4 linked regions of the Homo sapiens genome follow. The protein of the gene in region 3 purifies or fractionates together with the protein of the main gene of each other region. This does not show direct contact. Each region holds a gene or a part of one and is shown on either strand. Other genes may lie near its edges. The genes, in order: H1-10, HNRNPM, DOT1L and YBX3.

Region 1 (7,152 bases), on a different chromosome or scaffold from region 3:
TCCATTTTTAGGGACATCTGTTAGAATAGACCTTGACCTATTGCCCAACTGGACAGACAACTATCCCACATGCTGGATACCAGAATGTCCCAGGGCTGGAGATCCTTCTGCTCCTACTAATTTTCCCAGCAATCCTTTGGGTCCCGTTTGCACTCTAGCTTAACCAATAGGCTCAGAGACAGCAAATACCCTTCTGAGACCACACGTTGGATTGTGGTCAGGAACTCCACTCTCTGGCCACCACACTTCGTCCTGGTCACATCTCACTCTAACCCTCGCTGGAGTCAGAATGACTAAGTTTACAGGCCAGTCTGGTGTGACTTTGTAAGAACTACCTCTCTGGAGGCCAAGTTTAGGTCCCTGACCATTAACTCTGAAAACCCATTAATCCCCCCTCCTCTCCCCTCCCCCATCCCGCTCCCCGCAATGGCCGATGGACCCCCTGTGGGGGCAGATAGATCCATCCCTCCTAAGGGACCGATCCTGTCTATCTCCCTGTCCCAGGTACTTTAAGTTCGTCCCAAGCCAGCAATTCCCACCCCTTGCTGAAGGCCCCTGGCTCCAGGCCTACCCTGGCCAACAGATCTGGGGTATAAGGACCCGAGGGGCCCGCCATCCAACCCCGCGTGCCGAAGGCGCCCATCCCTATTCCACTCAGATTAAACGAGAGAGGCTGAAAGGTTTAAACGCTTTATTGTGCCCAAAAAAAGGCCCATGGAATGAAGGGAAGAGCCGCGCAGCCCTGAGCCCGGAGCGATTGTTTGTCGCGCACCCAAAGGCAAGGAGGGTGGGGAGCTGGGAAAGGATGCGCGGCCTCCGCGTCCCCGCGCGCCTGGGCCCGGCCAACCAGCGACCCCGCCCGGTGGGCAGGCGCGGCCTCGGCCATCGGCGCCTAGGGGCCAGTAACCATGACGACGGCCGTTGCCAAGGCCGAGAGCCAATAGAGGCGTCGCCGGGGCTGTTTCAAAAACCTAAAGCAAACAACGAAAAACGCTACATCGTTGGGGGAGGGGAAAGACTGAGAGGACCCGGGGCCCCTCCCTGAGGCTCAGACCAGGCCTCGCGGCCCCGGCCGGCGTGAGCCGTACAAAATCTACGTCACTTGGGGTAGAAAAACAAAAACACCGAAAAGCCCACGCCGGCCGCTCTGACCGGCCGACACGCTCACTTGCGGCCCTTGGGCACTTTGGGGACGCTGGGCTTGGCCGCCTTCTTCACCTTCTTGCCCCCGGCGGCCGCCGTCTTCTTGGCCTTGCCGCCTTTGTCCTTCTTGGCGCCAGCGCCCTTCTTGTGCGAGCGCTGCTCCGGCTTCTGGCCCCTGGCGGGCTTCTTGTCCGCGCGCCGGGAGCCGGCCGCGCCCGGGGCTGCCTTCTTCGCTTTGTGCGCGGTGGGGGCCGGGGCGGTGGCGGCCGCCGGGGCTCCGCGCCGCTCCCCGCCGCCCTCCAGCTTCTTGCGGTTGAGCTTGAAGGAACCGTTGGCGCCGGTGCCCTTCACCTGCAGAAGCGTGTCGTTCTGCACCAGCGCCTTGATCGAGTACTTGAGGTAGGTGCGCCCATTCTGCTGGTCGAACCACGGAACCTTCTTGGCCTCGGTGTAGATCTTGGCCAGCGACGAGCCGTTGCGCTCGCCCAGCCTACGGATGGTCTCCACCACCAGCTGGCTGTACTTGCCCGGCTGGTTCTTCTTCTTGCTATTCTTCCTCTTCTTAGATGGGGACAACGCCGCCGAGCCGCCAGCCTTGGTCACCTTCTTGGCCATTCCCTCGGCGGTCGTCACTGGCAGGGCCTCCTCGAGCTCCACGGACATGGTAGCAAGAGGATTGGTGGCGGGCGGCGCGCGGAAGCCGGGGGGCCGCGCCGGGAAGAGGAAGGCGAGGGGCCGAGGGGGTGCAGGGGGGCTGGGGGCGCGCGGCGGCTCCAGGCGGGAGCGGCCGCGGCCGGGCCTGGGGCCGGGCGGCAGGGCTGGGGTGGGGGCCGGGCCGGGCCGGAGCGAGGGTTGGGGGGCCCGGAGCCGGGGCCGGACTAGGGGACCGAGTTGGGGGTCAGAGACCGAGTCCGAGCCGGCGGCTGGAGCTGGGGACGTAGACCTAGGCCGAGCCGGAGCGAAGAGAAATCCCGCCGAACGCGAGACACCGCCGCCGCAGCTTCCACTGGCGCCTCTGGAACTCGCTGGGCGTGCGCGCTGCGCTCTGGCGGGAGGGCGCTTCTCTCGGCTTTTTATAGCTTCATGGCGGACCACGTTGAGAACAACAACAGCCTGGTCCGGGGCCAGCGCCAACTTGTGCTTCTTGGAGCCCCTTCTCCGGCCGCTGGCTTCTCGGACCGCGCCTCTCCAGCGCCGCCGCGCCCGCAGCGGGGCGCCCCGGACAGGGCCTGAGCTCCCGGCGCAGTGGAGAGGCGACTTGCGTCCTGGAAGGGCTCAGCAAAGGCGAACGGAGAGGTGCACCCTAGGCTGCGGGAGCGCGAGAGGAGGGGGGCACCTCGTTTGGAGGCCAATAGCGCGGGCCCCAGAGGAGGCCCCACGGCCGGGAGCTTGGCGGCCGGCAACCCAGAGAACGCCACGGGCACCCGAGCCTTGTCCCGGCCCGGGGGGCTCCAGGCCTGCCCGCAAGAGGAGCTTTAATTTGTCCAAACTAACACAGGGCGCGCCCTCACGTGGTCGGCTGGGGCAACGTGAACTGCGCTAGGACATCCTCGGGGGTTTTCCGCCCCATCCAAAGGGGATGGCGGATGGGAGGCACTCTCCAGCTGCACCCCGGGTTCTGGTTGTGCCTCTGGGAGCCTAGGCACAACCCGGGGAATGGAGGACTACGGCAGGACCTCTCTAGGGACACTGCCTCGCCGCTCCCCCCACCCTGTTGCCGCTGATGTTCCCAGGGCCTCATTTTGTAATCCACAAGTAGCTGCCGCCGGTCCCCCCAAAGCCAAATGGGGGCTCCAGGGTGGGACAGGGTGGGCGGGGGTGAGGCTGTGACACCCAGAGGAATTCCTGTGAGAGGATGGGGAAGGGATTCGCTCTTAGTTCCTGGGTGCACCCCTCCCCCTCTCCCGTGCACAGGGAAATGATGGCGGGAACACAGCAAAGGAGACCATGTCCTGGAGAGGGTCCCGGGCCCCACCCTCCCCGGGGGGGCTTGTGCAAGGCTGGCGGCCCGATCTCTGCTGATTCCAGTATTGGGGGTGCAGAGAAGGCACAGGACAGTTTTTGTTGAAGCCGTTGCAGCCTCCACTTGGGGAAGCTGAGGCCAGGGTAAGATGCTCGGGTAGGAGAGGGGATCCCTTTGGGGGTAGGTGATGTAGGGCACAGGAGTGGGGCTGGGGCTGGGGGGTGGCAGGGTTGCAGGCAGGAGACAGTCTCCAGAGGCCCAGCATAGAAAAGCGATGGAGGGGTGAGGGGGGACAGGACGCTGGCGAATTGGGGTTCCCAGAGTGAGAGACAGGAACATTTACAGGTGGACAGAGTAAAAGGCCCTGAAAAGGGGGTGGGTTGGTGCATTTGTGGCCTTGGGCCCAAGCAGGCTTCTCTGGGTGAGGGCTAGCAGCACCTCCCCTCTTCTCCAGCTCACCCCTTTCACACACACACACGCCCCCCATTTTGTCACCCTGTCAAGGGAATAAACCCCAGAGAGGAAGAAATTATGTCTAGGAGGAAACGGTGAGCCTGGATGGGTTTTTTAGGGGGGAGGCTGGCAGGGGCATGGAGCCAGGAAACAGCCTTCGCCCCCCAGAGCACCAGGTACCCTGAGAAAAGTGAGAAGAGAGATTGCAGCCCAGGTCCCTGCAGAGGAGGATGGGCTCCTTTCCCAGGAAGGACTGGCTGAGTGGACTGTCTCCAGGGCACAGGACAACGTTGAGGGCCTGAGGCCTCCACCTTCTTGAAGAAGGACCATGTGAATTTCCTGACAGAGAACGGGGATGGGTTTCTGAAAGCACCACCCAGCTGAGCCTGCCGAAACTGCACAGCTGTTTCCAGGCCAGGCTGGCTGCATGGAGGACGTGAGAGGAACAGCCAGCTGTGTGTGCTGGGCCCACTGATCAGGGTGCTCAGGACCAGGAGCCTTCTGAGGATGTGCAGAGGGGACTCTGGGGAGAGGAACATGGTGGCCACAGCTGGAGTGACCGCAGTGTACAGAGATGGGATGGGAGCAGGAAACCCAAAAGAGCCGGCCCTGGAACCAGGTGGAGGGGAGGCAGCCCGGCCATGACCCAGAGCAGGTGATATGATTTGGATCTGTGTTCCCACCCAAATTTTAGGTTCAGTTTTAATCCTCAGTGTTGGAGGTGGGTCCTGGTGGGAGGTGATCAGATCATGGGAGTGGATTCTAATGGTTTAGCACCATTCCCTCGGTGATGTCCTCATGATGGTGAGCTATCATGAGATCTGGTTGTTTGAAAGCGTGTTGCACCTCCCCTGACTCCCTCTCTTGGTCCCGCCCCTGCCATGTAGGACACCTGCTCCACTTCACCTTTTGCCATGAGTAAAAGCTCCCTGAGGCCTCCCAAGAAGTTGATGCCCTGTGCTTCCTGTACAGCTGCGGAACCGTGAGCCAATTAAACCTCTTATCTTTGTAAATTACCCAGTCTCAGGTAGTTCTTTATAGCTTTGTGAGAATGGACTAATACAAGGGGCTTGAGCTTGGGTCTTTTGAAAAGTTAAAGGGTGAGCAGAAGCGATACCCCTGAAGGAGTCCCAGCCATGGGCAACAGGGCCATCGCTTGGCCTTTTGTGCAGCCACCGCAGGGGGGAGGAGTGGCATGCTGGACATGCCACTCTGGAGCTGGCTGCAGCCACAGGCTGGGCCAGGGACACTCCTGGGTCATCTGTGCTGGAGGAAGGGGATGCTCTAGTGGAGACAAAGGGACAGGGTCACGGAGGAAGGCGGGACCCAGGTGTGGCCTCCTTCATGACATCTGAGGAGAGGAGATTCGAGAGAGGAGGGCTGGGCACCGCAGCCAGTACAGCCACTCACAAAGTAGAGCCGCAGTCCGGGCACTGAGGAGAGCGGCCAGGCTCGCAGCCACGGTGCCCCGGGGGACCTGGCTGGGACTGCAGGGGAGAAGCAGTCAACACAGGGCTGGAGCCCTGTGGGCAGGGCAGTGCTGTCCAGTCCCGGGGGGAGGACACGGAGGATGCAGCTCAGACCCCACACCAGCCTTGGTGGGCACACGGGCTGGGGGCCGGCTCCTCAGCCTGTGAGGGGAGCGGGGCTTTTGTCAAGAGGGAGGCTGCCTGTGGCGCAGGGCTCAGAAGACTAATTCTAGACTTTGGGAGCTGGCATAGACTAAGTGGGATCTTCCACTTGCCCTCATGATATGGTAGAGGCAACTGAGGCTTGAGGAGGGGGTTAGCCAGGAGACCAGGACTCAGGCTGGGGTCTTGCAGCCTTCAGGGTGCCTCTTACCCCCACACTGCTGGTCATCCCTTCTGCATTACCCCACCAAGGAAACTGTAGGTGGGGAAGGTCCCAGGTCCTCAACCAAAAAAAATGGCCAAATATGAGAAAAGGAGCTTCTGGAAGTGGCCAGGGCCTAGCAGAGACCAGGGCAAGACCATGTGCCCAGCACCTGAGTCGCGCCCTTCCCTGGGCCTGGCCAGTCTGGAGGAGGCTCTGGCTTGTGAGCAGTGGGGTTTCTGGGGTCGGAATCTGGAAGGGGCTCTGTGGCTGCTGGGCTCTCTCTCTCCTCCTTATCTAGGGGATTGTTCAGTCCTGGGGCTGCAAACACCACCAGTACCCTGATGATGCAGTTCATTTCCCTAGCCCGAGGTCAGCCTCTCTCCCGTGCAGACCCCAGCATCCCGCTCCTCTTGCCACCCTCACCTGGAGCCTGGGTGTGGCCAACACAGACCCTGCTCCTCCCAAACTTTTGCCAGTGATTCTGCCCAGAGACAGGGACTGCTCCCTGATTTCCCTACTCTCTTCCAACCCATGGCTTCCTCCCCATCTACCCCAGAACTGGTCCCACAGCTGCCGAGCCCCCACCCTCTCTACCCTTTCCACCCAGCCTCCTGTTCTGTCCGCACAGCCCCAACACAGAAGTCTGAGTGGTGGGTCCTGGCTCTGCCAGAAGGTCTCTAATGGCTTCTCACCAGACGTAGGGTAAAGTCTCCCAATGCCTTTGCCACTGGCCCCTACCAAGGCTCTGACCGCAGCTCCCCAGCTGAGCACTCAGCCTCATAGCCTTTTTTGCTGCCCACACATACCCAGAGGGTTCTCAGGACCTGGGACTTGCTGGGGTGGCCCCATGGCTGGCTCCTTCCCTGGCCGGCCTCCCTAGACCCCTCCCTAGGGCTCCTACCAGAGCACCCTCCCTGCCTGGCTCACAGCCCCTGCCATCTAGTATGTCCGTTGAGTTGTGGGCTGTGAGCTAAGTGCAGGGTGGGGGAGGTCATGCTCCTAGCTGTACCAAGGCGGGGTGGACACAGTGCGCTCCCGACACAGACACACCTGCAGCAGCAGCGGATGGGAGGATGGGGGTCAGGAGCTCCTGGCTGGGCTCTGACCCGGGCTGTCCTTCAAACGCTGGGTGTGATCCCTTCCCCACCACCACTGCCCAGCCTCAGTCTCCCAGTTTGTATAAAGGGGCTGGATGTATGGAGTCTGAATGATCCAGCTCGACAGTCTGATTCTGGGCTTCCAGACACACACTCACCATTCACACCTACAGTTCACACACACAGACACCTACTCACTCACACTCAGATTTACCTTCACACACGCTCACCATTCACAGCCACAGTTCACACCCACAGACACCTACTCACACATATTTACCCTCACACATGCTCACCATTCACACCCACACTTCACACTCACACTGATACCTACTCAGTCATGCTCACACACACTCACACCATTTACACTTACAGTTGACACACGTACACATCACCTACTCACACACAATTTACCCTCCTACTCACATGCTCACACACCATTCACATAGTTCACATTCATACACACACCTACGCATCCATTCACACATATATGCACACACACTCATACCCACACATTTATCCTCACACATACCATTCACACCCACAGGTTCACACACATTCACCTACTCACACCTGTCATCCTCTCATTCACATGCTCACAAAATGGTCACACAGTTTACCCCTCACACCCACACACTAACCCATTCACACTCACAGATT
Region 2 (7,219 bases), 6.2 Mb from region 3:
ATGGGACTAACCAGTATCTTCTGAATTAGAGTGCAGCCTGGTTTTCATTCCCTTCACAGGTTCTGATTCTTCCTTCCCCAGGACACTTTCAAAATGCCTAACCACATCCTCTACATCCTGGTATTACAATCCTAGGATTACCATGAGGTAATCCTAACAATATCCTCAAGTTGTGAATCTCTGCTCATTTCTCACCCTGAAAAATCTATAGAAAAGAACTGGCCAAGAGAACTGAGGGCTAACCTGGCACAGGTTCAAGTGAAACCATATGGTAATTTTCTGTTTATTAGTGTAACTCCAATTCAAACTCTCAGCCCTAATCACTGAAACACTTACGGGGAAGTTGTTGTGGACGCTCAGGAGGGAAGAAATCTCCTTTTGGTAAGGCCCTCTCATCCTGAAAGAGAAAGAAAACAAACAAATCTCAGTATCCAGTGCAGCAGTGTTTGCAACAGCAAAAGACTGAAATGGCCCCCCATCAAGAGAGGACCAGCTAAACACATTATCCACGCCATGGAGTAATACGCAAGGGTAGAAAGGCATGCGGAGCATGCTTCCTATTTTATGTCAAGGGAAAAGACACATGGATATTATTGTGGGGGATGATGGGGACCTGGGCAAGAAGTCCAAGTAGGACTCACACTATCTTCACACTACCTTTTCATGCCTTTTGACTTTTGAGTCACGTGAATCTATCATCTATTCAAAAAACTTACCTACTCTATTTAGAGTAATGAAAAAATTGCTTTATAGTTTATCTTTTTCCTGAATTTGAGTCCCAACTAGACTGCCCTCAGCATGTTCCAGTCATGCCTGTAGTAATTATTATCTTTGGCACAGTTACGGCAGAGCAAATGTTTATTAAGATTGAAGTGCTCCAACAGACCTTTAAAAGCTGTCTGAATCAATGACTTAATTATGTTCACAACAGATTTGATGCTAACCAAACATTATACTGTAATACTTTGAAAAACTGGAACCCCACATATATAACCATTCTTTGAAACGGATCACTTGCTCAACCAGGATACCCAGGTGACTTCCTGAATGCGCCATGAACAGTCAACTGTGCAAAAGGAAAAATATCTAATGCAGTCAAGAGCTGCCATGAGCAAAATGTTTTTTTTTCTTCTTTTTTTTTCTTGAGACAGAGTCTCACTCTGTTGCCCAGGCTGGAGTGCAGTGGCACGATCTCGGCTCACTGCAGCCTCTGCCTCCCACGTTCAAGTGATTCTCCTGCCTCAGCCTCCCGAGTAGCTGGACTACAGGCGCGTGCCACCACGCCCGGCTAATTTTTGTATTTTTAGTAGAGACGGAGGAGTTCCACCACGTTGGTCAGGCTGGTGTCGAACTGCTGACCTCATGATCCGCCTGCCTCAGACTCCCAAAGTGCTGGGATTACAGGCGTGAACCACCACGCCTGACCAGCAAAATGTTATTTCTCTCACAATTTTGCTCAACATACTGCACCCTATTTAACTTAGACTAATCCACAAATATTTCATAGTGGCTATATGTACACTCTTATTAATTCCATGTTTTTGCTAGACTTGAGTATATCACAGAGAAAGATCCTACTGACTTACCATCTTGACGTGCATTGGTCTATCAAATAGCAGCTGGCCATTGAACATAGCTGGTATTACAATTAAGGCTATTTCTTGCAATTCTAAAAATGTGCACAAGAGAAATACAAAAAGAAAGAAAAATACTCCAACTGCTACCAGTCCCTCTAAGTGATGAATTTATGAGCAATTTCAATTCTTCATTATACTTTCAACAATAAACATAAAAGGAACAATAAATAAAGCTGGCGGGGAGGACAAGACAACTTCCGCTTATTCCTTAGGTGTGAAGCTTCATTCGTAACCTTACAATTTCACCAAACCATCCTCTTAAGCAGTGGCATCAAGGTTCTCTGAATGTGACCAATGGGCCAGGCATCTACCACTATCTAAACTGAAGGACCATGTTTTCTGGGTAAGACATGCAGTGACGGTCTTGTCTGAGTTGTATGAATGTGCTCCTGTGGGGTACTCTCCAAGGGATTAAAAACTCTAGGCTAAGCCTAGGGTCAAGGAGAAGTGGCCTCTTCCAAAATGATGTCTACTCACTGGAAAGAGTGAGGTCCTATAAGGATGTATTACACATGAAACAACAACCCCACTTTCTCTCTAGTAGCACATTCTTTGGACTTCCTCCTTCAAACCTAGACTCTTCTGAAAAGAAAACAGTAGAAAGACTCATGGGCATATGCCCATGTTGTAACCATCCCCTCTATCCACACTGTATTGAATCAATTCCACCCCCAGAGAACCTTTTTTTTTTTTTTTTTTTTTTTTGAGACTGAGTCTCACTCTATCACCCAGGCTGGTGGTGTGCAGTGGCGCAATCTCGGCTCACTGCAACCTCCACCTCCCGGGTTCAAGCGATTCTTGTGCCTCAGCCTCCCGAGTAGCTGGGATTACAGGCACCCACCACTGCGCCCAGCTAATTTTTGCATTTTTTAGTAGAGCCGGGGTTTCACCATGTTGGCCAGGCTGGTCTCGAACTGACCTCAAGTGATCCGCCCGCCTTGGCCTCCCGAAGTGCTGGGATTACAGGCGTGAGCCACCGTGACCGGTCCGGCCCAGAGAACCTCTTAATTCCACAGTAATGCACTCCCCCTAGTCACATAAAAAACATGAATACACACAGTCACCTCTTCCTCACACAAACCTACATTACTAACACAGCAATTTAGGTCAAACTGTTCATAAGTTGAATTCCTGCAGAAGGATACATATAGCTTGCACAGCTTCAATGGACTGTTCAAAAGTAACAGTGCCTATTCCACGACTTTTTCCATCTTTATCTTCAAGAATGTCTGCTCGGACCACCACACCAGCCATACTAAATACTTCCTTCAGTTTCTTCCAGCCAACTTTATAATCCAGCTAATCGAGAGAGAACGGGGTAAAAACCTCAATGTAAACATCTTAAGAAACACAACATTTTTACTACATGAATGATACATGCTTTGGTTGGAAAAAAGTATTAGGAAATAATGTCACAAAAACTAATCAACTGCAATGGAAATTTTAAAATAGGATTATAAAGCCTGGCCTTCACTGTAAATAAACTGTACCTATAGTAAATATATTGTCTCTTTTCTCAGAAACTTAAGTCACCTCATACTTCAAATTAATACTCATTTTCTGAACATTTTTAAAAAATTGTTTCCCTGATAAGCTTTACCACTCCCCACCCCACCCAACCTACTTTATTCTAAAAATATTTCCCCTTGCAGATGGTGGAGGTATTATCATTCACCCCAGACACAACAAGAGGAAGGTGTCAGTGCACTTCTGCTCGTACAGTCTTACTCTGCACCAAAACTGCATAAAATAAACCAACGGAGAATGCAGACTCGGTTACTGCTTGCGGAAACACCTGCGAAACTCAGGAATCACAGCCCCAACGAGACCACGGTCAAGCCTGTGACTTAGGAATGCAGACAAAGCCCGCCTATAAGGCTGATTTTTAAAGAAATCAAGAACAAAACCCTTCTTTACATTTTTCTTCTCAAATGTGAGAATTACTTTTATAACATATTGACAAGGTCATTTCATAAAGTTCTGATTTTCTACTTTAGACGATGGTTCTGTTTACTTACATTTGCTACAAATACTGTGCTTCCAAGTCTTCCAGCCTGTAATGCATGGATAATCTCATTTGGGATGTTGGGATTATTTAGGATACTGGGTGGGATAGTAATCATTCCTGGGCCACCTGGTCCCATACCCATCCCACCAGTCGTAGCCATCACCTTTTGCATTGCTCTCCTGGCATGTTCACCATCAGGATCCTAAAACAAGCACAAAAGGTGTTACGTTTAACTGACCCAGTACAACGCAAACCATGCTTGCACAGTAAATGATATTCTCAAGACTTAGAAACTGAAAGGTTGTTTGGAAAGCATCTCTCAAATCTATTAACAAGAAAGTCAAATGAACTCAACTACCAGCTTAGAAGAGTCCAGCTAAAGAAATAGGAAAGGAAGAAAAGGCATGAAGTGTAGCACTAAAAACACAGCTCTCAATTGCACTAAGTAAAAAAGAAAAGCAGGGTAGGGAGGGAAACATGATTAGCTGATATAATGTAGAACCGCCAGACTGAAATTAGAGCTTCATGGGCTTGGTATAGCTGAATCTTACTAATTCATCAATGGGGTTTTGTAACTTCTGCAAACCCCGTCAATGGCTTCCAGAAGTTTGAGAAACAGTTCTAGACCACACAAGCGCCCCCATCCTTCAAGTCCTTCAGGTGTTGGAGGCGTGTGTGTGAGGGCTGCGCAGTAAAACAACATCTGGGAAGGTCTGTGAAGCTCTGTACTGACTCTCTTCTTCAACTCTCTGTCCTGTCAATTACCACCATCAGCACTAAAAAAGACATCATAACACATGAGAGACCTTAGACCCTACCAAGCTTCACTCTGAATCTACTCATCTTCCTCCCCAAGAGAAGAGGTGAAAAGAAGTTAAGAGGGATGTTTTTTTGAGACAGAGCTTTGCTCTTACTGCCCAGGCTGGAGTTCAATGGCGCGATCTCGGCTCACTGCAACCTCCGCCTCCTGGGTTCCAGCGATTCTCCTGCCTCAGCCTCCCGAGTAGATGGATTACAGGCACCCCCCACTACGCCCAGCTAATTTTTTGTATTTTTAGTAGACAGGGTTTCACCATGTTGGTCAAGCTGGTCTTGAACTCATGACCTTGATCCACCCACCTCAGCCTCCCAAAGTGCTGGGGATTACAGGCGTGAGCCACTGCGCCCAGCCAAGAGGGATTTAATCAACAAAAAAACCTTCTTCCTCAAGGAATATATTTGATTCAGATGAGATGTGAAAGCAGGTTTGAGGAATAACAAACTCACTTTATTTTTTTATTTTTTAGACAGGGTCTCACTGTTGCCCGGGCTGGAGTGCAATGGTGCAATCTCAGCTCACTGCAACCTCCACATCCTGGGCTCAAATGATCCTCCTGCCTCAGCCTCCCAAGTAGCTAGGACTACAGGCATGCGCCACCATGCCTGGCTAATTTTTGTACCTTTTGTAGAGAGGGGGTTTCACCATGTTGCCCAGGCTGGAACAAACTCACTTTTTAAAAAAAGAAAAAAGATGGGCCAAGAAGAAGGGTCAGATGGAGTAAAACTTAATGGCACAAACCCACGGGCTCATGGTTTGAGAGTCCCTGAGACAACAAGGCCTCAGACAAATCACAGATATTAGAAGGTGGTCAGCAGCCACTCAGGATCTGCTTGGCCACCACCCCAAAGTCCTTGCAGGGAATGGCTGCTGTAGGCTATGACCGACACTCTTCATTAGAAACAACAGGCTGGCACTTGCTTTGTAAATGCCGTCTGGGACCATGACCGTCTTTCCCTAATTCCAAAGTAGGATCACTCAACAATTACACACAGTATCCGCAGTGTTAAGCAAGAGCTTACTTCTTTGACTTTCAGTGGTCTTCCGCTCAGACTATGCTTGTTTAGGACTTCCGCAGCTTTTTTCATGCTCTCTTCCATCTTGAATTCAACAACACTATAGAGTCAAAAGGAAACGAGTCGAGTGAAACCAGTCCTACAAGTTAGAAGGCTCAAATACCAATAAGTAACTAGACGATACTTACGCACATCCCTTTGGAGGAAGCCAGAGACCAGTCAGAAGAGCAAGGAAGGGGAAAAAGAAAAGAAAAAAATAGTAAATATCAATGACAGTTATAAACAAACTAAAAATATGATTTATGTCACAAAGTTAGTCTTTTAAAATGAACCCTTCTAAGGGGAAGCTGACAGAAGTGCCTCGCCTCGCCTTCCTTGTTAAAAGCTGGGCTCCTTAATATCTCCTTCTCCTACGCGTTACCAGCATTGCACTAGAGCTGCTGACATTTAATAAGCAGACCTAAATTCAGGGTCTCCAAGAAATCACACCAACTTTAGATCTGCTTCCCTCTGTACTCAATCGAGTCCTTACCATATTCCTCCTAAATCCATCCCTTCCGTAAGTTAAGCTCATCCTTTTGATTATTCTAAGCCATTCTATTGCACGACAGAAAATAGTTTATGTTCTCTTTAAACTAGGCCAATTTTGAACATTCAGGTTTTTAATATTTGGTTTACAATTTACTGGCACAAAGGCAACTTTTCGGAATCTTTGGTTCACACAACTTTCAAATTCAGCAAACAACCAAGAGTAACATTTTCTAGACAAGAACACACGTTTTACATTAATTATACCACCGCTAAAATTCCATGCATAATTCACACACAGCCAATTCCTCTGTTAACAAAGAGACAATGCTGCTATTGGTCCCCAGTTATCCAAATTGGGCATCCAAACAGAATACCAAAAAGCTCTTTGGCCAGCCATTTGGAAAAGCGGGACTCCCATTTGCAAATCCCCTCCCACCCCACTCAAATGTTTGGCAAAATCAAACATAGCTACTGTAACATGAGCACTCACTGCCTTCCTGATTTCATTCGATTCCACGCCACCATACAGTTACATTTTTCATGTAGTAAATCCACAGAAGAAATTCTCTCAGACACTTACCCTTGACTTTCCTTCAGCGTCCATTAAGAGCTCCACGTATGTTACCTCACCAACTACAAATCAGTTTCCAGACGACACATAAACCAAGGGAGAAAAGCCAAGAAAACAATGGGAATTTAGAACAATCATCAGCAACCTTGTATGGAGCCTCTGCCTTATAAGAAAGCCCAGAAACACTCCATATTCTCTAAACCACCGAACTAGGCATTACAGGTGTGCAGTAAAAGTAGGTGAAAACACGTTAACAATATGTCCTTGATTTTCCTCCCACCACAAACAAGCTATTCCACAGATTTCCGTATCAATTTCCCTGTCTGGAAGACTCATTCATGACTAGAGGCAATCCAAATCTATAGGAAAGAAGTCTGCGTGATTTACTTTTCTGGGGAAGGGAGGAGGTTTTACACATACGCTCTCATTGGTGGCAAGCAGGTGAAATGCATACAAATTGCGATGCCATCGGGCTGAGCTCACATGCTATAAATACAAGGACGCACGTATGCGAAGGTATAAGCTCACAGGCACACACGGCCGCAGGGCCAGCTTCACAGGTGAGCAACTCGTGCAATTGTACAGAGCCCCGCACTCAGGGGCCCTGAGCTTGGTTTAATGCTGTTATCGCTGCCATGA
Region 3 (7,219 bases):
CGGGCTCAGTCATGGCCCCCTGCCTCCACCTGTTTTTTTTTGTGTTTTTTTTTGTCCCCCCGAGAGGGAGTCTCGCTCTGTGGCCCAGGCAGTGGCCGATCTCAGTTCACTGCAAGCCCCGCCTCCCGGGTTCACATCATTCTCCTGCCTCAGCCTCCCAGGCACCCGCCACCACGCCCGGCTAATCTTTTGTATTTTTGGTAGAGACGGGGTTTCACCGTGTTAGCCAGGATGGTCTTGATGTCCTGATCTTGTGATCCACCCGCCTCGGCCTCCCAAAATGCTGGGATTACAGGCGTGAGCCACCGCGCCCGGTCTCCCTCTGGTCTTTCTTTCACAGGCCGCGCTCCCCAGCCCTGCCGGTCCCCATCCTTACCATGGAGTTGAGGTTGAGGGGAGACCCCGAAGGCTGTGTGAAAAGGCCAGCGACGGACGGCAGGGCTCGGCGCTTGGGGGACACGCCTGCGCTCAAGCTGGGCGTCCCCGCAGATGCTCGCTTCCGCCGGCCGCGCCTGCGACTGTCCTGCCCGTGGCTCGGCACACAGTCCCCACGGGCGCTGGCGGTCAGGGGGCTGTGCTTGCTGGAGGGCGACTGCTTGGCACTGCCCGCACCAGTGGTGATGGTGAACACAATCCTCCTCTTGGCTTCACTCTCAGGATCTGAGAAGCCGGAATCGGAGGGCAGGTCTCCCTTGCTGGCCTCGGGCAACGGGCCCTGGGCGGCCCCACCAAGCCGGGGACTGGAGGAGAGCTGGTGGGCGGGAGAGGCAGGAAGCGAGTTCCGGGGCTGTGCCAGCAGCAGGGGGTGCTGTGGCGTGGAGCTGCGGGACCCCACGGTGGCAAAAAGGCTCCCAGAGCTGGAGGACTCATCCAAGGTGGCCGGCTCGGCTCCAGGTGTGAGAGAGGCCGGGCTGCCCGCCAAGGCCCCGCTGATGGCCACCGAGCCAGCGTAGGAGAAGCCTGCCGGGAAGGACATGGGGGTCTCAGGGGACACAGGATGGCCAAAGAGAAAGCCTTGCTGTGGGAGCACCACCCCCTAGGAGCTCTGTGGGCTCCAGGAGAGGCGGGGAAGTGGGGAAGGGGTTGGGAGTCTGAAAACGGCCCCTCTGGGGTGGAACCAGAAGGCTCTGTGGGCAAGCTCAAGGCTCAGGGCTGACCCTGTGCCTCCTCCCGCCCATCTGGGCTGCCTGTGCCCTGCAGGTCCCGGCTGAGACGCTGCCTCCCAAGAAGCCTCCTGGTGCGGGCTCCCCGCTGAGCTAGGCTTCCTCTGAGTAAGTTGCCCTCTGGCCCCGTGATCTCAGAGACACCATGAGGAAAGCCCATGGCTGCGTGGCCTCCCTCCCTCCTGTTCTCAGAAGACAACTCAGCTTGGATACTCCAAGCTATGGCCGCCTTGAAGGCCGCAGCCATGCTTCCCAGCCCACGATGAGTGGTGCACTTCCATGACCACCCGGGGACAAAGGGCGGCCTCCCTGCTTCTGCCAATGAGGCCTCAGTGCAGGGGCGCAGCAAGGCGCTTCTGGAGTTGGCTGTTTGCCACCCAGTTGAAAATCTCCTGAAACTGTCACTGCCTCTCGCAGAGCAGACCTCACCCCAAGGGCACAACCCAGCCCTGCGAGGGCAGAACTGCCCGGGCTTCGGTGGCCTCTCCAGGGCCCTCACGTGGCCAACCGTGAAGCCTGCCCAGCCTCCCTAGAGCCCCTCCTGTCTCAATAGCGGCCATGTACATTTTACTTGTTTTGTTGTTGTTTTGTTTTTGAGATGGAGTTTTACTCTTTTTGCCCAGGCGGGAGTGCAGTGGTGCGATCTCAGCTCACTGCAACCTCCACCTCCCAGGATCAAACGATTCTCCTGCCTCAGCCTCTCGAGTGGCTGGGATTACAGGCGTCTGCCACCACATCCGGCTAATTTTTGTATTTTTAGTACAGACGGTGGTTTCACCATGTTGGCCAGGCTGGTCTCAAACTCCTGTCCTCAGGTGATCCGCCCACCTCGGCATCCCAAGGTGCTGGGATTACAGGCATGAGCCACCACGCCCGGCCACATTTTACTTTTTACTCCTAAAAAAGTAGCTGCCGCATCATACCGCATCTCAACCTGGGGCCAGCAAACCAGCCTGGGGGTCTCATGTCCTCTGCTGTTTTAAGTACAGTTTTGCTGGCACACAGCCATGCCCGCTGACATGCTGTCTCTGCGGCTTCCACAACAGACAGGCCTGCAGTGTCAACAAAAGCCAAAGTGGCATCCTCTCTGGCTCTCTGCAGAAACTGGGCTAACAGCAGAGACTGCTCAGGCGGCACCTTCTCAAGGAACCAGAAACCATGCCGCTACCAGCACGGAGGCCCACGGTCGTGTGCCATTGGGCACTGCTGTGTGTGGAGCCGATCCTGAGTCAGGGGCCTCCCAGCTGTGAGTACAGGAGCCCCCGAGAGCACTGGGGCCGACCTCACGGGCTGAATTAATACACCCAAGCAGGAGGTGTCAGTGTCGGGAGACCCAGGTATGAGGCCGAGATGGCTGCAGCTGAGCCCGATCCGCATCCCAGCTCGTGGGATGCAGGAAAGGGTGTCAGTAATGAGGCGTGGCGGTTTGGGGCAGCAGCCCCCATGATCACCCCAGGAAGCCCTGTTCCACTCCCAGCAACCCAGCCCTCCTGCCTGAAGAGCAGCAGCAGCAGCAGAGTCCTGAGGGTAGGGCACAGGAGGGGCGTTACCTGCGGGGGCCAGGGCAAGGCTTCTGCTCCCAGCACCGTGGGCATTAGCACCAATCTGCTTTTCAAGTGTGGACGAGGGGTCACGGGGCTGCAGCACGGGACTGGGGGTGCTCCTCTGCAGAGAGAAAACCCTGTGTGTCAGGGGCAGCAGGTGCCCCAGGAGACCCAGAACCCAGCTGGAAACAGTGAGTGTTGAGGCCTGCAGCTGGCTGGGGGAGGCCGCCGGGGTCACCGTCCAGTACCGCGTGGGAAGAGGGCAGCGGGGGAACTTGAGCGGGGCCCCAGGCGAGTGGCGCAGCGAGAGTGCGCGGTGCCTGCGTGTGAATGGGCAGCGGGCCTGAGGCAGGGAGGTCAGGAGGCGGGGGTCCCGGGGTCCAGCTGTGGGGAGGGGGTACTGGGCACAACCCAAGCAACCCACAGCCCGCCCTCACCGGGAAGCGGCTGTGTTCTCCAAGCAGCACAAATGCCAGCAGTCGGGTGGGGTGAGGAGGGCGCTTGCGAGAACACACCTGCCGGCCACCACCCACTGCACTTCCCCACACCACACTCCAAGTCCAACAAAGGTCAGTAGAGTGACCGCAGAACCCAGTAGCTCCACTCCCACATGGGCCAAAGAGCAAACCTACATCCACACAGAAACCTGGACCCCAGCGCTCACAGCAGAACGATTCACAATCGCCAAAACAGGGAATCAAGCCGGGGTCCATCAACTGGGCACGGATGAAGATGGCACACTCCATCCACACAGGGAATGCCCTCACGTGCCAAGAGAAGGGACAGGCCCAGACATGAGCGTGTTCGGGGGCCCGGGGGCTGGGGGACGACTAGGGAGTGACTGCTGAGGCGGGCAACGCTTTTTCCCGGGTGAAGAAAATGTCCTGAATTAGACAGAGGTGTATAAAAGTACAAAAAACCGGCCGGGCACGGGGGCTGACACTTGGAATCCCAGCACTGTGGGAGGCCGAGGCGGGTGGGTCGACTGAGGCCAGGAGTTCGAGACCACCCTGGCCAACAGGGCAAAACCTCCACCTCTATTAAAAATACAAAAATTGGCCGGGTGCGGTGGCTCATGCCTGTCATCCCATCAATTTCGGAGGCTGAGGTGGGCAGATCACCTGAGGTCAGGAGTTTGAGACCAGCTCGGCCAAGATGGTGAAACCCTGTCTCTACTAAAAATACAAAAATCAGCTGGGCATAGTGGTGCATGCCTGTAATCCCAGCTACTCGGGAGGCTGAGGCAGGAGAACTGCTTGAACCCAGCAGGCGGAGGCTGCAGTGAGTAAAGATCACAAGATCGTGCCACTGCCCTCCAGCCTGGGCAACAGAGCAAGACTCCGTCTCAGCTGGTGGGGGCGGGGATTAACCGGGCGTGGTGGTGGGCACCTGTAATCCCAGCTACTCGGGAGGCTGAGGCAGGAGAATGGCATGAACCTGGGAGGCAGAGATTGCAGTGAGCCGAGATCACACAATTGCACTCCAGCCTGGGGGACAGAATGAGTCTCCATCTCGAAAAATAAAAAAAAAGAAAGAGGCCAGACGTCGTGGCTCACGCCTGTAATCCCAGCACTTTGGGAGGCCCAGGCGGGCGGATCACTAGGTCAGGAGATCAAGACCATCCTGGCTAACACGGTGAAACCCCATCTCTACTAAAAATACAAAAAATTAGCCAGGCGTGGTGGCGGGCGCCTGTAGTCCCAGCTACTCGGGAGGCTGAGGCAGGAGAATGGCGTGAACCCGGGAGGTGGAGCTTGCAGTGAGCCGAGATCGCACCACTGCACTCCAGCCTGGGCGACAGAGTGAGACTCCGTCTGAAAAATAAAAATAAAAAATAAAAAATAAATGCTAAAAACCACTGAAGCATATACTTGAAGCGCACAATTTTTAAAAAATAGTTCAATGCCCAGAAAATCCCGCCCATGCTACACAAGACGAGATTCTCTGCATGCACAGCGCTGGGTGGGAGAACCCAGAGGCAGCTGTGAGGACAGGGGCCACGGCAGCCAATGTGGCCTCGTGAGGAGTGAGGCTGGGAGCCAGGGTGGGCCTCTGAGCTCCTCCTCAACCCAGAAGGTGTGAGGCCCTCTCCACTTGCACACGTACCTTTCACCCAAAAGAAAAAGACTGGCGAAAACAACGGCCCAGGTCACCGGACACGCCCCGGCTTTGGACAGCCCACCTTGACTGCATTGCCTCACGCTCGACATTTTACAGCGTGAGACTTCGCAAAGTGAGCCAGGTCTCGAGCACCCCAGACTGTTTTGCCTCAACGTGGCCCTTGGGGACAGCCACCTGGGAGCCACTCACCGCCCTCTCGGCGCGGCTGGGCAGCACCACGCTGGCCAGGGGAATGCTGACCGGGAGCTTGTTGGGCTGCACGGTGCTGAGCGGGATGCTGATGGGCAGGCTGGTGATGAGCTCCCCGCTGCTGCCGTAGGCGCGCTCTCTCAGGCCCTGCAGACGAAGGCCCGACCCCCAGTCGTGGGTCAACAAACCCCTCCAGGACACAGGGACCACAGCCACAGGACGGGGGCCTGCTACAGCTCTCTCAAGGCGGCCCCCACGCTGCCAAGGCCCTGCAACCTTCCCCACGCAGTCAGGCCCTCCTGGACACCGGCTTTGGGACACTCCAGAGGGACGGCACGCTCCTGGTGTCTGAAAGCAATGCCCATCTGTCCCCTCCAGCCTGCCCGCCCGGCTCGGTGGGCAGTCACCCGTGGGGCCACCAAGCCTCCCAGGGCCCACATCCATCACTGCCAAGTCCATGCAACGTCACCGTCCTTCCCTCTCCATCCCTGTGCACACAGGCCAGTGCCCCCGGGGAAGTCCTCATGGGCAGCGGCCTCCCAAACTGGGCTCTGTGTCTCTACCAGCACTTGCCGTCCGTCACTGAGAACTAAGAGGCATCAGGGACACCCTGACAAACCCCATGTCCTCCATGGCACCTGCCCAACGTCACCTGTGACCTGTCCTTACTGGTTGCCCCCAACTCTGCCACAACATCCTACTCCAGGTCAGCCCCAGTACCTCACCGTGCCCCAAGGTCAACTAGGACAAGCCCTCCTGCTAGCAACTCGCTCAGGCCGCCTCTGCTGAGCACCTCCCTGAGCCCGGGGCAGGGGTCGCGGCCCGCACCTTCTCACTGCTCTTCTCTCCAGCAAGCTGCAAGGCCCCAGGGGACAGGGGCCGCGGGTCCTGAGGGCTCAGCTTCATGCTGCCAGGCACGCTGGGGCTCTGGTAGGGAAGGCCGTTCTCCTTGGTGTGCTCAGCTCTGGAATGAGAAGCTGCAGTCACTCTCGAGGGCCGTGGGCTGGCACTCAGAGGCAGCGGCCTGGCCCAGCACCTCCCCACCTCAGTCTCCTCAACAAACACACTCCTGCTGAGAACCCGACAGCCTGAGCACACCAGGCAGAGTCGGCAGGTACCAGCTGCAGACCCCCAGCCCCACCAGGGCACTCACCTCGAATGCAGCTCACTGGCAGCCGGCCTGCCGGGCACCGTGTGGTCCTGGCTCAGGTGCCGCCTCAGCACAATCTTGGCCGGGGACAGCCTAGTGTAGTCGGGTGCGGCTAGGCCAGACAGCTTCTCCAGGCGCGGCCGGCCGACGTGGCTAGGGGTACAGGGCACCACCTCCTGGTCCAGGGGTGAGGCCAGGTACTGGGGCGTGTTCTGCTTCGACGAAGGCCGGCTCAGCACACCGCAGAGCTCATAGCCAGCAGCCTGGCCGTTCATGGAGAGCTCCGGGCTCATGCTGCTCAAGTGAGGCAGCGAGAACTTGGTGCAGTCCAGCTCCAGGTGCAGCCGGCTGGCGTCAGGCTCCAGCTCGCGGCCCAGGGCGCCCTTCCCACGCAGGTGCAGGGACAGGGCGTCGTCAGGCGGCACACAGGACTTGAGCTGCAGGAGCTCCTGCTGCCGCTGGCTCTTCTCTAGCTCCACAATGCTGATCTGCAGGAGGAGAGATGGTGTCAGGCCCGCCCCACCGGGGGACCACTCCAGGGAACCAAGACTGCCACAGATGGACACCCGGAGGGGTGGCCAGGACCCCCGCTGCTTGTGTGGGATGGAAAAACCAAAGCTGCCGACCACATAGAGGCGGGGTCGGGAAGCTGGGGGCGTCAAATAAAGTCATGTGGAGGGCCGAGGATGGTTTTTGCTGACATGGAAGCACCTTCTTCAAAAAGAGCAACAGGAAGATACAAAGAGCTCTCGTCTCTCAAAATAGACTCTAAGTGTAAAACATCCAGTTTCACTAAGTGTAAAACCTGTGGAGGGACACGCCACTCGAGCGTGGCAGCTTCCCCGGGCGCTGAGTCTGAGAGGGGCTTTTTCCTTTTAGTTTATCTGTTCTGTTTACCTGCTTTCCTTTCTTTTAACAAACACATTGTTTTTTTATTACACAGAAAAGATGATGACAAAAATGGTCAGAACCCAAATATGCTCTTCCCGAGGGCTCTACTCCAGGCAGACCCACAGGGCCCGGCTGTGGTAAAGAGGTCGGCGACCTCCGTT
Region 4 (7,219 bases), on a different chromosome or scaffold from region 3:
GAGACAACGTACATTCCGGGGAGGGCCACGGCGCCTTCCATAGTAGCCACGTCTGTAACGGCGCCGATCTGCAGCGTAACGACTCCCTTCCACAGGAACTCCATCCGGGCCAGTCACATTGGCAGCTTCTGCACCCTGAGAAGAAAATAAAAAGATGGCCTCAAAATTAAAAAGAATATACACTAACTCAAAAAACAGCCTTGGACTGCTAGAGTATAAGACTGGCAGAACATACTAAGAATTCCCACTGTGATTTTAAAAACAGATCTAGGTTTTAAACAAAGTGAGCAAGGTACTTCACATCCTGATTTAAACATATATGGCTTGTTTGCTCATACAACCTGAGTTTTGCTTTCTTGTCTAGTAATGTCAATCGCAAAAGCAATGTGTAACCTCTTTAAAGAACATAAATTAGCAAATATACAACTGTCAAAGTAGAAGCAATGCTAGACCAGGAAGAATATTCCTCAATGGGAAAGACTTGAGATACTGTTATTTTCCTAGAATGTGTTGAAACCTATGTTAGTCTAGGAGGTACCAAGAGGACAATCCCTATTCATGGGCTCATATGATTCTCTGTCCAGCACAAAGGTACTGAGTGAAACTTCTCCTATTTTGGCAGCAACAAGAAGAAAGGGTCTTTGATGAATAATATTCTCCACACATGTAGTCCTTCTTTAGCCTTTCCTATTATCCTTGAAACAGATTTAGAATTCTTATTCTCATATGGACAAATGGAAAATGTTTCAAAAATGTTAAAAAAATGTAGACCAAGAAGATTTCAGAGAGTGTATTTCACACCCTACATCACTTTGTAAAACCCTGAGTTCTGAAAACATACAGAAGAAAAATCAACCCAAAACAATTTTTTAAAAATTGGATGGGATATCAGAGATCCTCACAGAGTGGCAGGTGCTGGTGAGTGATTTGAAAATCTAAAAGACTTACAAGATACCCTGGGGATCACACCGGTAAAGATAATCACTTAAATTTCTGCATCCAATGAAATAAATTGTTTTTCTTTTAAAACACAATGGTTTGAGAGCCATTAGGAACATGACCTATGGAATGGTATATGTGTATATGGGAGGAGCACATACAGGGAGTTAACCTCTCATCCAGTTAATTTATAATTCAGCTGCCATGATTAGCTGCCATGGCAGTTGTGCTATATGTAGTTTTAGCGTGTTTTTAATCTTACTCAATATTGTTTTACTAGTATCTATAACAGACTAAACACAAAGCATAAAGGGCATTACAGACACGGAATTAAATATATAACAGTATTAAAAACTTCTGTAGCTAGTCTTCAGGAAAATCCCTTAACTTCTTGGATTCAGTTCACCCGGACGAAGCTATCTTAGGGTCTATCAGGGTACCTTCAGCTTCCCAAAATCCAAGCCAAACAGAAAACAAAATGATTAATATTCAATTTCGATCTCCTTTTATTGGGATTAAAATATTCTTTACCATGTATTATTTGTAGGTAGAAGTGCTTACAAGTCAGCCTGAAAACTTTACTTTGATAAAAGAAATCTTTTGCCCCAAAGCAGTTTTTCTTTTCTTTTTTTTTTTTTAAAAAACGGAATCTTGCTCTGTCCCCCAGGCTGGAGTGCAATGTCTCAGTTCACTGCAAACTCCACCTCCCAGGTTCAAACGATTCTCCTGCCTCAGCCTCCTGAGTAGCCGGAATTACAGGAGTGCGACCACACTCAGATATTTTTGTAATTTTAGTAGAGACGGGTTTCACCATGTTGGCCAGGCTGGTCTTGAACTCCTGACCTCAGGAGATCCGCCTGCCTCAGCCTCCCAAAGTACTGGGATTACAGGTGTGGGCCACCACGCCCAGCTGCAAAGCACTTTTAATATATTGTTAATACATAAGATAGTTAAATTTTAATCTGCATTTCGAAATACATACCTTTGGTATAAAAATATAAATTATTTTTAAATTGAGAAATCAGCTTTTCTTTCCATAATCAGAGTTGATCATTTATTAAATAAGAAATTAAAGTATCTTTATTGCAGAATGTTTATAATGACAATGTCAAAAATATTTCTGCTAGCTGGGTGTGGTGGCTCACACCTGTAATCCCAGTACTTTGGGAGGCTGACACAGGTGGATCACCTAAGGTCAGGAGTTTCAAGACCAGCCTGGCCAACATGGTGAAACCCCGTCTCTACTAAAAATACAAAAATTAGCCGGGCGTGGTGGTGGATGCCTGTAATCCCAGCTATTAGGGAGACTGAGGCAGAGGAATCACTTGAACCTGGATGGTGGAAGTTGCAGTGAACCAAGATCGCGCCACTGCACTCCAGCCTGGGCAAGAGGGAGACCCCATCTTAAAAAAAAAAAAAATTCTGTTTAAAAGTCACTTCCTGCTATTGTACAAAAATTCCAAAGTCATGTCAATTCATAAGGGGCTGATAGATAATTTATTGTGCAACAGTACTATGTGCCAGCACTTTGATACCCAACCACAATTTCCTCTCACCTTCTCTCCTTCAACCACATCAAACTCTACAGTTTCTCCATCTCCTACACTGCGCAGATATTTCCGTGGGTTATTCTTCTTGATGGCAGTCTGGAAAGAGAACAGAAAATTTTATTCGATGTATATTTCAATATTGGCCACAGATTTCACTGCTTTCAAGTACACCAGAGTGAACTTGAAGAAACTGTTGACCGATTCTTATTTTTCCACCATTCTCCCACTAAGTTGGATCTCCAACACAACAACAAGAAAGCACTATAAAACTATATTCCACATTACTTCCTTGATTTGTGCTATTCATCTTGACAGGTGGATTAAACAGAACATGTTTTTTCTATAACTGCAGTGTGTGCAGTGACTACACACTACTGTTACAGGCTGATCACCTGATCATATCAGATGTATTAATTACCTCAAACCATTAAGCTTCAGAGATTCTCTGAATCTCCGGAGGAGGAAAGGAGGCAGTGATAAAGAAAAACAAATTAAAATGCCAAGGGGATAAATATTTCTGACGAGTAAACAAAATTATCTCAAGAATCAGAACGTATTAGTAATAATCTGGCCTCCCCCCTCTCCTCCCATTTTGCAGATGAGTTAACACGAGGCTAACAGTTAAAGTGATTTATCTGAAGTCACAACCGTAACAGCCCCAGGGATGATGGGGGAAGTGGAGGAGGGGGAATTCATATCCCTGTACTCTACCTATATGATATTTATTCAACTTTTCTCCCATCACACAATTCATGTCAACAAATCCTACATTCCCTGATAATACATTAAAAGGTTAGTGAAGATGCTATTCTTCATTAAACATCTACACCTAAATATCTGCTTATGAATAGGTGCTGCTCTCTCTTGTTCCATCAATGAAGGCAGAAAATAATTCCTGCCATGCATTTCCATTTCTTTGGCTGGTATCTCTAAACAGTTAAAGGGGCTTGCGTTTCTATGGAACTAGGTCAACCTTATTTTATAAAGCGATTAAGCATGTGTAATCCAGCCCGTCCCCTAACTCTGAGTAGGAGGGAAAAGAAATAGTGAGCCAACAGAGCAGAGACCTCACCCATAGAGGAAAAAAGGCAGTTCAGGACAGGCACGCAGCATGAACATTCAGCCATTCCAAAAACAGCCCCTCCCTGCCGGCTCGCTCCCTTTTTCCTGTTAAACTGGGCAAGCCTCAACACATTGAGGTGACTCACCACACAACCTCACGGGGGCTGGAATCGGGTCATATACTCACAGGCTAATAAAGCCAGCCACCAATACAGCAACTTCTGAGGACCTTGACTCTAGCAGTCTTCAGAATTCTTACCCTAAAAGGTCTATTAACCTCAAACCTCCAAGTATTATAAACAACACTATTATGACCCTAAAAGTCACTGTATCTGAACAAAATAAATCTACTCAAATTATCTAAATGCAACTGAGATATATCCAGTCAAGTAGAAATATAAACAATAGAAACCACAGCTAGATACCACTATCTCCAACTCCTACGGTCACTCCAATACACACACAAACCTAAACAGAAGGAAACAAAAACACAGAAAATCAGATGTATTCTGGATTTCTGCACTGCAAGAGAATGGGCTGGCATTAGTACCTGCTGCTCTATCTTCCTTATTGTTATACTCTGAGAACGCATATTTCAGACAATTCACTGAAAACTAAATAAACAAAAAGAACACTAAGGATAGTATTCCTTCTCTTAACCTATTTTATAAAGGAAGTCTAGGACATATTAATAACAGAATAAATAACATCCTAGGCTAATAAAGCAAAGAAAAACTGAGGCACCTATAGCAGAGAAGCTCCATATCTTACCCATTTCCTCTATTTCCTGCAAATCTAAGGGAATTTGCAGCTTTTGACCTGGACACGTCCTAACATGCCTCATTTAACAAGAGTGAGGGCTACCCTGGGAACTGGAAGTTTTCTCATCTTACTATCTGCTTCTCTGCGCTATTTACTTCAATTGAGAGCTGCTCTGACAGAGGAGCTTTAACCAATACCTACCCAGGCAGAAGCCAGATTGGCTCCAGGCAAACACTAAGGAGGAACCACATCAGGAGAACAGGATGCTAAAAGGGAAACAGACTTTTCTTTTTTTTGCTAAGGACTCAAAGGCTTTAAAAATTAGAAAGTGGTCTAACCAAATATCACTTTATACAACTGCAAAAATAAAACTATTTGAAAACAGTTAATATGATGGGGTAGAAGAACTTATTTGCCAATCTTAAAATGTGGAACTGAACTCCTGTTGCAAAATAAATCACAGAAAGAGTTTAGATTAAAATAATAATCCATAGGACTTACTTTTGGGAAAGGGCTGACAGAAGATTACACACCCTCTCCTCACATAGCAAATGTAGTATTTATAATCCCTCTTACCTGATGTACAAATACATCTTCTTTGGTGTCATTTCTGTTGAAAGACAAAAAGCTCACAATTAAAGGTAGTACGTATGTGGAAAAACTTAAAAGAACCTATGTGTTATGAATTTAACTCCCAAGTCCTCAAAACACAACATATATTTTCACTTATTTTCTACACTCAATTCAGACACCTAAAATCCTTGTTAAACATTTCTAACTCCACAGGCCACCCACCTTCCTCCTCCACATTGCCACAGTGCTTAGATCCAAGCTCACAGACTCAACATACAGAAACATCCCGTTCCTCTGTCTCTTTCTGAATCACATGGTGTGTAATCAGAGCCTCAGATTTTCCTCCCAGCAAAAGCAAAGCAAGACAGTTAAAAGGACAGGGCACAGCTGTGAACTAGGCTCTCCTTACACTGAAACTTAAAACAGCCCCCCACCCCCACCCCACCAAAGGAGACAAGAAATTGGAGGACTTTAAGAAGGGGTGGGAAAGCAAAGAAAATGCCGATATCATGTGAAAACCTCATAATACTCCCAGCATCTTGTAGTTATGTTCTCATTCCTGTACGGTTAAAAGTTACCACAGTTTACAGTTTCTACATAGGACTGGACCAGAAGTGAGTTAAAGATCCAGCTCAATGACTCACTAGTTGGGTGACCTTAGGAAAGCTGCTTAACCAGTGTAAGACTCCGTTTCTCCATCTGTGAAATTATGGATATGGTCTCATTTATCCTAAGGCCCTTCCCATTTCTGATTTTATCTCCCCCTCCTTTTCTTCCTTAATGACTAGATTTTATGAAATAAGTTATTTATTAGTGTCCTGGAAATGTATTTTAAGTAATATTTAACAACCAGTAGCTTAGAAATGAGAATATTTACAGTGCTTAGAAACCTAAAAAATTTATATAAGCCATTAATGAAGGCTAAGGGATTTATAACTCCTGGTGCCACAATGTAAGTATAAACTTAAAACATGCAAATATACACACACACATACCGATTTATAAATCCATATCCATTTCTGACGTTGAACCATTTGACAGTGCCAAGGACTTTGGTGGCTAAAATAGGATTAAGCAGATAAATTAGTATCTGACCTACAGAGAGATATAGCTCATATCACTAAGATCTTGATAACATTAGACAAAGCCTAAACATACCTAAAGAAACCATTAAAAGCTTAATTCCAAAATACTTTAGAAAAAGAAAATGGAGCAAGCCAAGATCTCATAAGGAAATACTTTTCAGAAGACTAAACCTTTCTTCCTTATTCAACTTTTCAGGAAACTCGCAAGATAAGGAGTGGTTATAAGTCTATACAATTCTGTAATCATTAAAATTGAGAAACACTGAAGGAAAAAAAGAATGTTCAAGATGAATGTTCCAAGTTTTAACCTAGACAAATTTTATAAGTTCAAAATAGGAGCTACAATAAAAGAGTGAAAGACCTTAACACATCACTTTCATACTTGGAAATATTAGGCAAACTTTAATGAGAAACAAGGTGGCTCCTTGTTAACAGGCAATCTACAAAGACGTAAAGCAACTTGTCCAGTCGCCAAGTGGGAGCTCATCAGAGGAGTCAAGAATAATTATAGAACTGCTGCTGTCTCAATCCAGTTCTGTACTTACCACTCTGAGACGTGATATAACAGGTCTTTTCAAATCACATGATGAATTTGGGCTTGTTTCTTTGTTTACCTTGCTCTCTACAGTTTTGCGAATCAAACTTAAGCATTTTTCCATAAAATCCCCCTCTTTACCATAATGGTTGTCTCTACCTCATGAGCAGGACCACTTCTCTACAATGCCTGATTTTAGCAGAATTGAGAGAAGGAATCTAAACAAAATAAAACTTCATGTAACTTGTATTTTGTAGGTTTATATTTATCTCAACTATTTCAAATATGATCTTTGGAATCAATTATGAATGACAAATTCAGTACTTCTAGGAAATGCCCCTGTCTCAATTCAGGAAGTGCAAAAAGCAATTATAAAGACTCAATGAAACAGGAAACCTGATAATAGATTACCTTAAAGAAAAAATAAAGAAAAAAGCCTCAGTAGAGAATGAAAGTAATTATTAACATCAATCCATACTGTCTTTTCATAAGATACAAAGTTTATAATTTCCAAGGATAAACAATAAGGCTTCACTTTTAAATTCAAAACTAAAATAGTAATTAAGACTTGCTCTGTTGTAGGCAGGGGTAGTTCTGAAGTTTGCTAGACTGATACACTTGGGAAAATACTTTAGCTCTCTTTGTTGGGGGAAAGAAAATCCAAAACAAAAAAAACATGTCTTTATATCTCCAAAGTTATGCAGTCTACACTG

The links.
Region 1: the proteins of DOT1L (region 3) and H1-10 purify together in Homo sapiens (affinity purification with mass spectrometry, with the first as the bait; 2 studies listed by BioGRID). This does not show direct contact.
Region 2: the proteins of DOT1L (region 3) and HNRNPM purify together in Homo sapiens (affinity purification with mass spectrometry; 2 studies listed by BioGRID, with this or other methods). This does not show direct contact.
Region 4: the proteins of DOT1L (region 3) and YBX3 purify together in Homo sapiens (affinity purification with mass spectrometry, with the first as the bait; 2 studies listed by BioGRID). This does not show direct contact.

Annotation. Positions count from the first base shown.
Region 1 is NC_000003.12:129,314,097-129,321,248, forward strand, and holds H1-10 (histone H1.10), read right to left. Parts: upstream 2,191-7,152; 5' UTR 1,807-2,190; coding exon 1,165-1,806; 3' UTR 675-1,164; downstream 1-674.
Region 2 is NC_000019.10:8,461,952-8,469,170, reverse strand, and holds part of HNRNPM (heterogeneous nuclear ribonucleoprotein M), read right to left. Parts: intron 6,643-7,219; coding exon 6,590-6,642; intron 5,675-6,589; coding exon 5,667-5,674; intron 5,579-5,666; coding exon 5,485-5,578; intron 3,848-5,484; coding exon 3,656-3,847; intron 2,937-3,655; coding exon 2,783-2,936; exon of another isoform or gene 2,557-2,782; intron 1,670-2,556; exon of another isoform or gene 1,637-1,669; coding exon 1,587-1,636; intron 398-1,586; coding exon 337-397; intron 1-336. UniProt on the Homo sapiens protein: Pre-mRNA binding protein in vivo, binds avidly to poly(G) and poly(U) RNA homopolymers in vitro. Involved in splicing.
Region 3 is NC_000019.10:2,215,717-2,222,935, reverse strand, and holds part of DOT1L (histone-lysine N-methyltransferase, H3 lysine-79 specific), read right to left. Parts: intron 6,656-7,219; coding exon 6,171-6,655; intron 5,982-6,170; coding exon 5,846-5,981; intron 5,165-5,845; coding exon 5,018-5,164; intron 2,829-5,017; coding exon 2,714-2,828; intron 961-2,713; coding exon 377-960; intron 1-376. UniProt on the Homo sapiens protein: Histone methyltransferase. Methylates 'Lys-79' of histone H3. Nucleosomes are preferred as substrate compared to free histones. Binds to DNA.
Region 4 is NC_000012.12:10,713,199-10,720,417, forward strand, and holds part of YBX3 (Y-box-binding protein 3), read right to left. Parts: intron 5,946-7,219; coding exon 5,882-5,945; intron 4,924-5,881; coding exon 4,890-4,923; intron 2,586-4,889; coding exon 2,496-2,585; intron 136-2,495; coding exon 13-135; intron 1-12. UniProt on the Homo sapiens protein: Binds to the GM-CSF promoter. Seems to act as a repressor. Also binds to full-length mRNA and to short RNA sequences containing the consensus site 5'-UCCAUCA-3'. May have a role in translation repression.